Linked DNA regions of Homo sapiens: region 2 is linked to region 1. Evidence: fine-mapped expression QTL. A gene starts in region 1. The other region holds a variant in brackets. All regions are shown on one strand. Distances are from middle to middle. Region 1 holds the start of GPHN (gephyrin). Region 2 has its middle 41 kb from the start of LINC02290.

What was found.
Region 2: its variant is fine-mapped to the expression of GPHN in cerebellar hemisphere (GTEx, PIP 0.93).

The regions. Positions count from the first base shown.
Region 1 is chr14:66,505,833-66,511,216 of GRCh38, forward strand. GPHN (gephyrin) reads left to right here and starts at 2,315. Exons shown (of 23, transcript NM_020806.5): 1 at 2,315-2,759. The coding sequence starts at 2,696. RefSeq lists silencers at 2,360-2,549, 2,900-3,049 and enhancers at 3,140-3,299, 3,550-3,599.
Region 2 is chr14:66,149,730-66,155,113 of GRCh38, forward strand. No RefSeq gene overlaps it. Among named protein-coding and RNA genes, the nearest start is that of LINC02290, 41 kb to the left of the region's middle. RefSeq lists a silencer at 2,609-2,809. The variant T/C (reference allele first, on the strand shown) is at 2,433.

The DNA.
Region 1 (5,384 bases):
TTCTAGAACAGCTTCATCCCGAAACCATCAACCCTCCCCATCTCCATCCATGGAAAAATTGTCTTCCACAAAACAGATCCCTGGTGCCAAAAATGTTGGGGACTGCTGCTTTAGAAAATTTAATTCATATCCACCCTTCCCACTTAAATTTTAATGAATTTAACCATCACCCCTTTTATGAATGCAGAAAGTTAGTCTCTTGTCCTCTTATTATTGATTTGTGAAATAAAGTGCCAGTTTTCTTCCATGAATAATTACAGAATATTCTAATTAAAGGAGTGCTTATTTAGTCTACCACTATACTTAAAAGGTACTTATTTAGTCTACCATCTTATTTAAAGGATGAAGGAAAAGGCCCAAATTTGTTTAGGGTCACAACCTGTTAGTGGGCAGGTTTAGACCTTACGTCTAAGATAGATGTAAGACAGACGATAAGCTCAAGATATTTTCTAATCATTTAGAGTGTGTTGCAGAGAATAGAGATAGGTTAGGAAGATAACAATATAACCAACTATTTGCTCTTCATGTTTAGTTTGAGATAACGGAAATCATTCTCTTGGACATACTTTCTTATCTTTATCTCTCATTTCAAACTAGTTAACAACCCGTTGGCCACCAGGATCTAAGGTGACAATGATAGGGAATGAGTTCATGACCTGGCTTAAATTTTTAATTACTGTCAAAAATACCAGCAATACACATACTAAAAACAAAAACAAAAGCAAAAAAGCCATTAATTTATTTTACCCACTTCAATTCCATCCATCATCTACTTTTAGGCCCCATTATTTAAAATGAAATACATAAGCACGTGAATCTTCAGAGGATGGGTAATTTCATGTTCCAACGGAACAATAAAAAACTCATAATCGGCCAGGCACGGTGGCTCACACCTGTAATCCCAGCACTTTGGGAGGCCAAGGCGGGCGGGTCACGAGGTCAAGATCTTGATCGAGACTATCCTGGCCAACATGGTGAAACCCCGTCTCTACTAATAATACAAAAATTAGCTGGGTGTCGTGGCACGCGCCTGTAGTTCCAGCTACTCGGGAGGCTGACGCAGGAGAATCGCTTGAACCTGGGAGGCAGAGGTTGCAAGTGAGCCGAGATCGCGCCACTGCACTGGAGCCTGGCGACAGAGCGAGACTCCGGATCAAAAAAAACCAAAACCAAAACCAAAAAAAAACCTATCAAAGTGACTTTGAAATTTGTGTATAAACACTGATATACATCTTTTAATACTTTGCTTTTCACTTTTATGCCTCCAGGTTACTACAGCTAAGAAGAGAAAACATATACATATGAGTGTGTGTACACACACACACACGCATATAACTTTTTAAAATTCAGAAGTTGAAAGGTCCAGAACGATAGTAAGAAACTAACGTAGAATAGCCACAGGTGATTAATAACACGTTTCATGAAAGGCACATGGAAATAAATGGCAACAAAAGCTACTTTCATGGTAATCTCACATCCCACGAATACTGAAATGAAAATCGCCGCGGCAATGGACTGTGGTTCAGGTGGAACACGTTCTCGTTCGCTAAGGAGATTGATGCTTTTCATCTAAAAGCAGCGCTCATGGCGAAGAGGCTTAAGGCCACAAAACCGTGGGACAGCAGGAGGAAGAGAAGCCAGGTATCTCCACTCCAGCTGCCCTGCCTCAGACTCCTCAGTTTCGCACGTGAGGATCGTCTTGCAGGCACTGACTGGAGATGGAATCCTAAAGCATAGGTGAAGCGGAAATCCTCCTTCAGGGAGAGCCCACTGAGGAAGCCAGCGGCTAGCACGAGGCAGGACAGGATACCTCCCTCTTCGCCCACGGCGGCCTCTCTGTCATAGTAGCCACCGTTCTGCCACTCATGCAGCTTTCTAAGACACCTCTCGGTTCCCCAGCGCTTTCAGTGGGGCGGCCGGCCATTCCCGAGGGTTGCAAGAGGAGGCCCGGGGTGCTGAGCCAGCCTCGCTGCCCCCGCGTAGAAAGCCGGCCCGCCGGCGAGAGCCAGCCTAAGGCGCGGACAACCAACGAGGTGTCAGGCTCGGCAGGGGATTGCTTCTGTCTGGGGCCCGGCCGAGGTTGCGTTCGTGCCTCGCGCGCACACGCTCCGCGTTCACTCAGCCAATCCGGTGCTACTCGCGCGCCCAGGAGCGATCCGCGGTCCTACTCAGGCTGGGCCGGCTCCTTCCCGCTCCCAATACTCAGCACCCGAGCTCTCACTCCTCCCCTCACTCTCCACGAGTTCCACGCCTAGGGGTGTAGCTCCGCCCTTGTCCCCGAGTCCGCCCCCGCAACCTCCAGAGCGTGTGCTATCCTTTCCTCTCAGTCCTGCCATCTAGCTGCCTTGGGTCTCGCGCTCCGCAGAGCGTTCCGACACTCTCCGGCCTCGTTCTGCCGCCTCCGCGCGCTCTCCCCGTGCGGCCACCGCGCCCCCCAAGCTTGCCTCCTTCTTGCCGGACTTGGGGCCGCGCGCCCTGACTCCTTCCCCTCCCGCGGACCCGCGCACTCCCGGCGCGGCCTCTCCCCCACGCAGGCCACCGTGCACTCTGTGGCCTCCCCCTCCTTCCCCGCTCTCCTCGCGCTTCTCTGGCTCCCTAGCTGTCGCGCTCTCCTCGGCGAGCGCGCTCCCGGCCCGCGCGCTCCGGGCTCCGGTTTCTCCCGGCTCCTGTCAGTGCGGTGACTGCGCTGGGAAACATGGCGACCGAGGGAATGATCCTTACTAACCACGACCATCAAATCCGTGTCGGAGTCCTTACAGGTAACCGGGGGAGGAGGTCTGGGACCTATGAGGCTGCTGTCCCTGCATTGCCTTAGGCTTTTCGCCTGTGGTGGCCCTTCTCTGCGGCCTCGGGAGGAGGGAAGGCTGAAGAAGGGAACCGCGGGGGTGCATTTTACAACCGCTGAGAACCGCCGGAGATTGGGGGTGTTCCCGCGGGTCCCCTCCCCCAGGCCCCAGGAGCCGGGGTCGACCCCGTGGGATGTTAGGCCCCAGCGCCTTCGGAAGCAAAGTCCTGGGCCCCCGGGGACCGAGGGGCCGGTGCGGAGGGCGCTGCGGGGCTCCGCGCTGTCGGTGCAGGCGGCGGGATCCCGGCTCCGCAGTCTGAAGCATGCCGCTCTCGGCTGGCCTGGGCGCATCCTCCGCTAGTGCTCTTCAGAGAGAGGGGGGAATCCCATCTCCACCCCCTTCCTCTCCTTCCCTTCCCCCCACCTGGGCGGCCCCACGCCAGTATCTGTGCTTGCCTGGACGAGACTCAGGTGTTAATCAGATGAAACTGCTCCTCCTCGGGTTGTCCCTCGCGGGCCGGGCGTCCCCTCAGCCACCCATGGGGCACCCTTCGCCTCCCTCGGGGGATGGGGGATCGGCTTGCGTCCGGACCTCGGAAAGTGTCTGCCTTCTGCCTTTCCGCGCAAAAGGCCCTCTGTCTGCCTCGTCGTTTCCTTAGCGAGGACGGGCTGCAGCCTGCTGCCGGGGATCCAGCTTTTTACTTGAGAGGGCAGGATTCCCCTACTCGGGCTCCTCTCCCCCTCCTTTCTGGGAACCCCCACCCCGGTAGAGCGTCCCGAGGCTGGTGAGGAGCGCACTTTTCCCGGGTCGCGTTTCCCTCCCTCGCGAAAGCCGTGTGTGTTCTGCATGTCTGATTCCGTTGCGCTGAATTTGGTTAATATCCGTCACTTCGGCGATCGGCAGTTGCTGCAGGGCATGACTTCCAAGATGAACAGCAAGCGGATTTGTAGGGGTTTCTGCTGTGGTTCTGTAATTGGCAAGGTTTATGTGTAATTGAGTGGCGAGACGGGGGTTAAAGAACTATATTTGGAATCTGAGGGCTTAGTTTGGAGTGAAGGAAATCCAAGACTCAGTGATGTGATTTCGGAAAAAGAAGCAGTGTGGACGGGAATCCTAGTGTTTCCCTTACTTCTTTTTTTAATTTTTTCTTTAACTGTCAAATTCTGACAGGTCGAGACGGTGCTCGAGAAGGGACTAAATTGAATAAGACTTGCTTTTATTATTAGGTAGAAAAAAAATGTCTGAGACTGCCGGCAGATATTGAGTGCAAAGCTTAATTTAGCTGCTGAATTTTATGAAAAGGTGATATCCAAAGCCTCCTTTTTTCTCTTTTAAGTAAAGGATTGCCTTTCCCTGGTATTCTTTCCGTATATCGATGGTGATTAATTGAATTTTCCTAATTAAAAGACCCTTGGATAGAGAAACTAGTCTAAACCAGTTGCAGAAAAGGGAACCCCCAAATCAGAAGGTGCGCTGTTCTCTTCTTTTGGTCCTGAAACTGTTTGGGTATGTGAAGATTCAGTTGTATTTCAGAATTCCTGGAGCTGACATTGCCAATTTTCGAATAATCTGATGGTGGGATGTCAAAGTGTATATCTTTTATCTACCCTCAACTTGCACTTTAAATTCCAGCCATTCTTTGACAATAATAGAGTAGTGAGAAACCAAAATATGTCAGTTGTCTGTGGAAATAAAAAAGGCCATAGATGTTTAAAAGTTAAACCGTAGAAACATTTTTAAAATGAACATTTTCTACTTAAGCTTTCCATTAAATAATAGTTTCATTTAACGAATCAACTTACCTTTGTGAAGTGACATAGCAGATAGGTGTTGTACAGACTGCTTTGAAAGATGCAGCCCTTATCTGGTGTCCCTACAGTCTAATATGGATAACATTGATACGCAAACAAATGAAGAAACATTGTATGTAATTATTGTGCAAAACTTTTCTAAATACATTACCTATGAGTTTGGGGTTAACTGCAAAAGAAATTCCGTATTCAGATGGATTAGGAGAGAATGTGACTACCTGAAGGGAGAATTTAATACATTTACTAGGTCAAGAAGAAACTGTCAATTTTAAGGGGAGTTGAAAGTCAGCAGCCACTTTATAAATAAATATATAGTTGATGATGAGGCTTCTGAGCTAAATAAAAATGCAATGTAAAGGCCTTGAAAAGCTGAAGTGGAATGGGTAGGTGGCATAGGTAAAATGTTAGAGAGAAGGTAACATTAACATTGACAGTGGAATTAAAGACAGTCAGGGGAAGCCGTCTCATGAGAATGAGGTACAGTAGTCTAGGGGGAAAAGTCTAGGGCCAGGAACAAGGATGTAGCTGAAGGAATGAAAAGGCAGCTACAGATTTGGAATAAGTGATAATAGAGGAAAATAGGTTTTGATGATAACATGTATATTTGAAGTCAGAAGTAACTCAGGCTTTTTCTTGAAAGTTGTTGATACAGATATTGTCTACTATGATGGAGAGGAAAGAAAACTGATTTTTCTCAAGTCTGTAACTAGTGGGTTTCATTATCAACAGCTTAATTTCTGTGGTCTTGCCTGATATACCATATGATTTGGGGGAAAGAACTTACAAA
Region 2 (5,384 bases), 360 kb before region 1:
CCTCAAGGATCTGGAACCAGAAATACCACTTGACCCAGCAATCCCATTACTGGTTCTATACCCAAAGGAATATAAACCATTTTACTATAAAGACACATGCACATGTATGTTTACTGCAGCACTATTTACAATAGCAAAGATATGGAACCAACCCAAATGCTCATCAATGATAGACTGGACAAAGAAAATGTGGTACATATATACTATGGAATACTACATAGCCATAAAAAGGAATGAGATCATGTCCTTTGCAGGGACGTGGATAAAGCTGGAAGCCATCATTCTCAGCAAACTAACACAGGAATAGAAAACCAAACTCATGTTCTAACTCATAGGTGGGAGTTGAACAATGAGAACACATGGACACAGGTAGGGTACAACACATACCAGGGCCTGTTACAGGTAGAGGGCGAGGGGAGGGAACTTAGAGGATGGGTCAATAGGTGCAGCAGACCACCATGGCACACGTATACCTATGTAACAAACCTGCACATTCTGCACATGTATCCCGAAACTTAAAGTAAAATTAAAAAAAGAAACATCCTTAAAAAAGTAACACATTTGTTTATATGTTTGTGTTTGCATATATATATATATATATATGTCTGCAAATGAGAAGGAATAAAAAAATCACTTCACTGAGAAAAAAAAAACAGAGATGATACAAACAAATAGAAAAACATTCCATGCTCATGGATAAGAAGAATCAATATCATTGAAATGGCCATACTGCTCAAAGCAATTTATAGACTCAGTGCTATTCCTATCAAGCTACCAATGACATTTCTCACATAATTAGAAAAAAACTATTTTAAAAATCACATGGAACCCAAAAGAAAATCCCAAATAGCCAAGGCTATAACAAAGCTGGAGGCATCATGCCACCCTACTTCAACTATACTACAGGGCTACAGTAACCAAAACAACATGATACTGGTATGAAAACAAACACACAGACGAATGGAACACAATAGAGAGCCCAGATATAAAGCTGCACACCTGCAATTATTAGATCTTCGACAAACTGGACACAAACAAGAAATGGGGAAAGGACTCCCTTTTCAATAAATGGTGCTGGGAATACCAGCTATCCATATGCAGAAGATTGAAACTGGACCCCTTCCTTATACCATATACAAAAAAACTCAAGGTGGTTTAAAGACTTAAATGTAAAATATAAAACTATAAGAACCCTGGAAGATAACCTAGGAAATATCATTCTGGACATAGGTCCTGGCAAAGATTTTGTAACAATGATACCTAAAGCAACTGCAATAAAAATAAAAATCAACAAATGGGACCTAATTAAACTAGAGAGTTTCTGCACAGCAAAATAAGCTATCAACAGAATAAACAGACAACTTACAGAACGGGAGAAAATATTTTCAAGCCATGTATCCAACAAAGGTCTAGTATCCAAGAATGTATAAAGAACTTAAACAAATTTACATGAAAAACAAACAACCCCATTAAAAAGTGGGCAAAGGACATGAACAGACACTTTTGAAAAGAAGACATATACATGGCCAACAGGCATATGAAAAAATGCTCAGCATCACTAATCATCAGAAAAATGCAAATCAAAACCACAATGAGACACCATCTCACACCAGTCACAATGACTGTTATTAAAAAGCCAAACAATAACAGATGCTGGTATGGTTGTGGAGAAAAGGGAACACTTAAACACTGCTGGTACAAATATAAATTAGTTCAGCCATTGTGGAAAGCAGTGTGGTGATTTCTGAAAGAACTTAAAACAGAATTACCATTTGACCCAGCAATTCCATTACTGGGTATATACCCAAAGGAATATAAATTGTTCTACCATAAAGACACATGCATGCATATGTTCATCACAGCACTATTCACAATAGCAAAGATATGGAATCAACCTAAATGCCCATCAGTGGTAGACTGGATGAAGAAAATGGGGTACATAAATACCATGGAATACTATGTAGCCATAAAAAATGAGATCATGTCCTTTGCAGCAACATGGATGGAGCCAGAGGCCATTATCCTAAGTGAATTCATGCAGGAACAGAAAACCAAGTACCACATCTTCTCACTTATAAGTGGGAGCTACACTGAGTATACATGGACACAAAGAAGAGAACAACAGATACTGGGGCCTACGTGAGAGTGGAGGGTGTAAGAAGTGAGAAGATTGAAAACTTCTTACTGGGTACTATGCTTATTATTTGAGTGATGAAATAATCCTTCCACCAAACCTCCGTGACATGCAGCTTACCTGTAAAACAAACCTGCACATGTACCCCTGAACCTAAAATAAAAGTTAAAAAAAAAGCGACAACTAAGCTCTATGTGACTCAAGGGCAAGAAATGTGTCTAATATTTTCTTGCTGTTTCCACTGGGCCAGAAGCATGCTCACATTAAGAGCTCCTTGTATGGCTACTACCTAGTTCCA[T/C]TGAGAAGGACTGGGTATCAGGCAAAGAGCACGGAGGTGGGAAACAGAAGAGCTGGTCCAGTTCTGGCTCTGCTCTATGACCCCGAGCAAGCCCCTCTGCCTCGCTGAGCCCCATGTATCACATATGTGAAAGGACACCACCACCACTCTGCACAATGCTGTGTGAGGTCAGATAAATAATGTGCACTGAAGTCCTGAATACACTAAGCTTAAAGCCCTGGTCACAGGAAAGGTGTTTCTGCTCTGTCTTTCCCTCTCTCCCCACACAGGCCACTGAAGACACATTTTAGAAAAAATCCTGGAACTGATGAGTCAGCACTTTCCAATCACTGGGGACAGGTCTAAAATTTCAAGGCTGTTAGTACAGACAACTGAGAGAAACACAGAGAGGACTTTTTCAGTCTGGAAGATAGGCAGGAGGGTACTTAAAAGAGAAAGTCAGAAGCCCAGAAACAAAATGTATCCCCAAGCCCAGGGTCATTCAGTTCCTTCTGCAGAGGCCCAGGGTTAGAATTAAGTGGGCAGCAATTTAGTGGCAACAAGAGACATAAAGGAGACATTTGCAGGTTTTTACTTTTCCTGCAACCAGATATTTCAGAAATAAGGCCTCATCTGGGGTCTCCCTAAAGTTAATGAGACTGAGCTGACAGTTCATTGACTTGCTTCACGGAATTTATTTTATGAGAGTCTCTAATCCACATGGCTCCTCTTTGCTTTGGGACTCAACCAAAATAAACTCCAGAAATCCCACTAGCTTATTTATACTTACCAGGTCACTTCATACGCCGTGTGCATTCAATCAACATAATTATTATTTAATTCTGAGAGAGAAAACACGATTTTAGTGACTAATTTAATTCAGCTGAGCACACACATGCATGCACATTTGTGTGTGTATGGCTAAGCGCTCAAGTTACAGTTATATAATAAACTTTCCACAGGCACTGGGCTTCCTGTTCAACTTCCTATCATCCAGATTAATTTTATAGGGGAGGGCTCTGAAACTAAAAAGCAAAGATTTCCCAACTGGCCCAGAAGAGGAAGAGAAAAATCTTGGACCACTGCCCTTTTCCAAGACAGTGCCCCTAGGCAAGGGCCAGACCTTCCAGGGGATGGCTGCAAGTCACACTCAGGGAAAGAGACACTAGCACTGAGTTTCTGGCCACAGTGAAGATTTCAATGCCCAACTGTGGTGTGGGAGCTGTGGAGAATGAGCCTGAAGAAACCATGGAGATCTCAGAATTAACCACTCATGGGGACAGAGATGGCTAGTGACCAGTACCATTCCCTGCACCCTATCTCACTTGGGACATAGTGCCTCAAGAATGACTGAGTTAAATTTCCTCCTGCCTCAGTGAAATGGGGACTCAGAATAAAATTAGGTAGAGTTAGAGAGTAAAAAAAGTATTATCTATTCATCCTGAGCTTATGGGTAAGACTCATATCTATTCCAATGAGAAAATGATGTATTACCTAAATAAACAGAGCCAGTTTGCTAGATTAAATCTTTTCAAAACTTAGTGTCCTTGGAGAAAAACCGAAGTGGTTGGTTGAGGGTGGGGTGGGGTGGGGGTAATGGGGATTCCTTGGCAGTGAAGACATTGGAAATGGAGTTTCTGACATAATCCCCAAGCACTCAGCACTTGCTCCTCAGTTGTCTTTTCCTGGATACAGAAAATAACTTGCCTTGGTGTGCTACTCTTAGGCTTTAGGGGGCAATGCTGATTTTCTTTGCTTCAGACTAGTTTTTTCATTGCCTCAGTTACTTTATCACCTCCCCAGGAAAGCAGTCTCAAAAGAACACGTCCAACTAGAAAGGCAGCATAGATGGGTTGGTGTGTTTAGCCGGGTTCTTTGGGCTGCAAAGAACAGAGACCCTTGCCGGTTCGTTCACACTGTGGGAGTCTCTCATGAAGTTACACATGGAAGCAAGGGTATGCCATGAAGCCGAGAAACAGCTGCATACCAGACCTCAAGGGAAGCACCAGAGCACCTCAGACATTCTCTCAGTTGCAGAATGTTATTAATCTGCAATTTGAACTCCACCATTAACATTGACTCAGTTCGTCTCTGTCTTTGCTTCTGCCACCCCGTCTCCACAATCCATGCCAGCCTCTACTCTAGTGACTTTGCTCTATCTTGAAATGTGTATGCTCATGGTAATGATGTCTCCTGGACTCTTCCATATTTTATCTGTGTATTACCTTCTCAGACTGTGCTGTCCCACTTCTGTTACTCCTACAAACTCATCAACTGCCTTCCTCTAATTCCAGTTCAAATTTCTGAGGAAGTTTCATGATGTTCCTATTTGGCAGAGTTTCCATGCTGCATGCTATCACAGGCTGCCGTTCATCAGGCTATGGATTTGCTAATCTATACATCAGACACCTTCTACAGGTCTGATTTGTTTAAGATATAGAAGTGAGGCACTAATGTGTAACTTGACCATTACTTCCATCATGAGAAGCCAGTGCACAGGAATCCCTTAGTATGAGGCTGCAGTCAAGGCAGACTTTTCAAAACTTAGCCTATCTATCCTGAAAAATTAGGAGGTAAGAGCTCAGCTGTCAGTTACCTGAGCATACTTCTGCATATTTCTTGGGTCATAGTAAATAATTTAAAATCCTATTTTACAGAATCTCATTATCTCCATGTTAAGAAAGAATATAACTACAGGCATTTGACCCAATTTCTACTCTCTCTCTGTATATCTATCTATATACAGATAGATATAGATATAGATATAGATATAGATATAGATATAGATATAGATAGATATACAGAAAGAGAGAGAGACAGGGTCTCACTTTGTCATCCATCCTGGAGTGCGGTGGAGCAATTATAGAACACTGCAGCCTTGAATTTCTGAGCTCAAGTGATCCTCTTGCCTCAGCCTCCCAAAGTGCTGGGATTACAGGCAGGAGCCACCAGGCCGGGCCCGATTTCCACTAT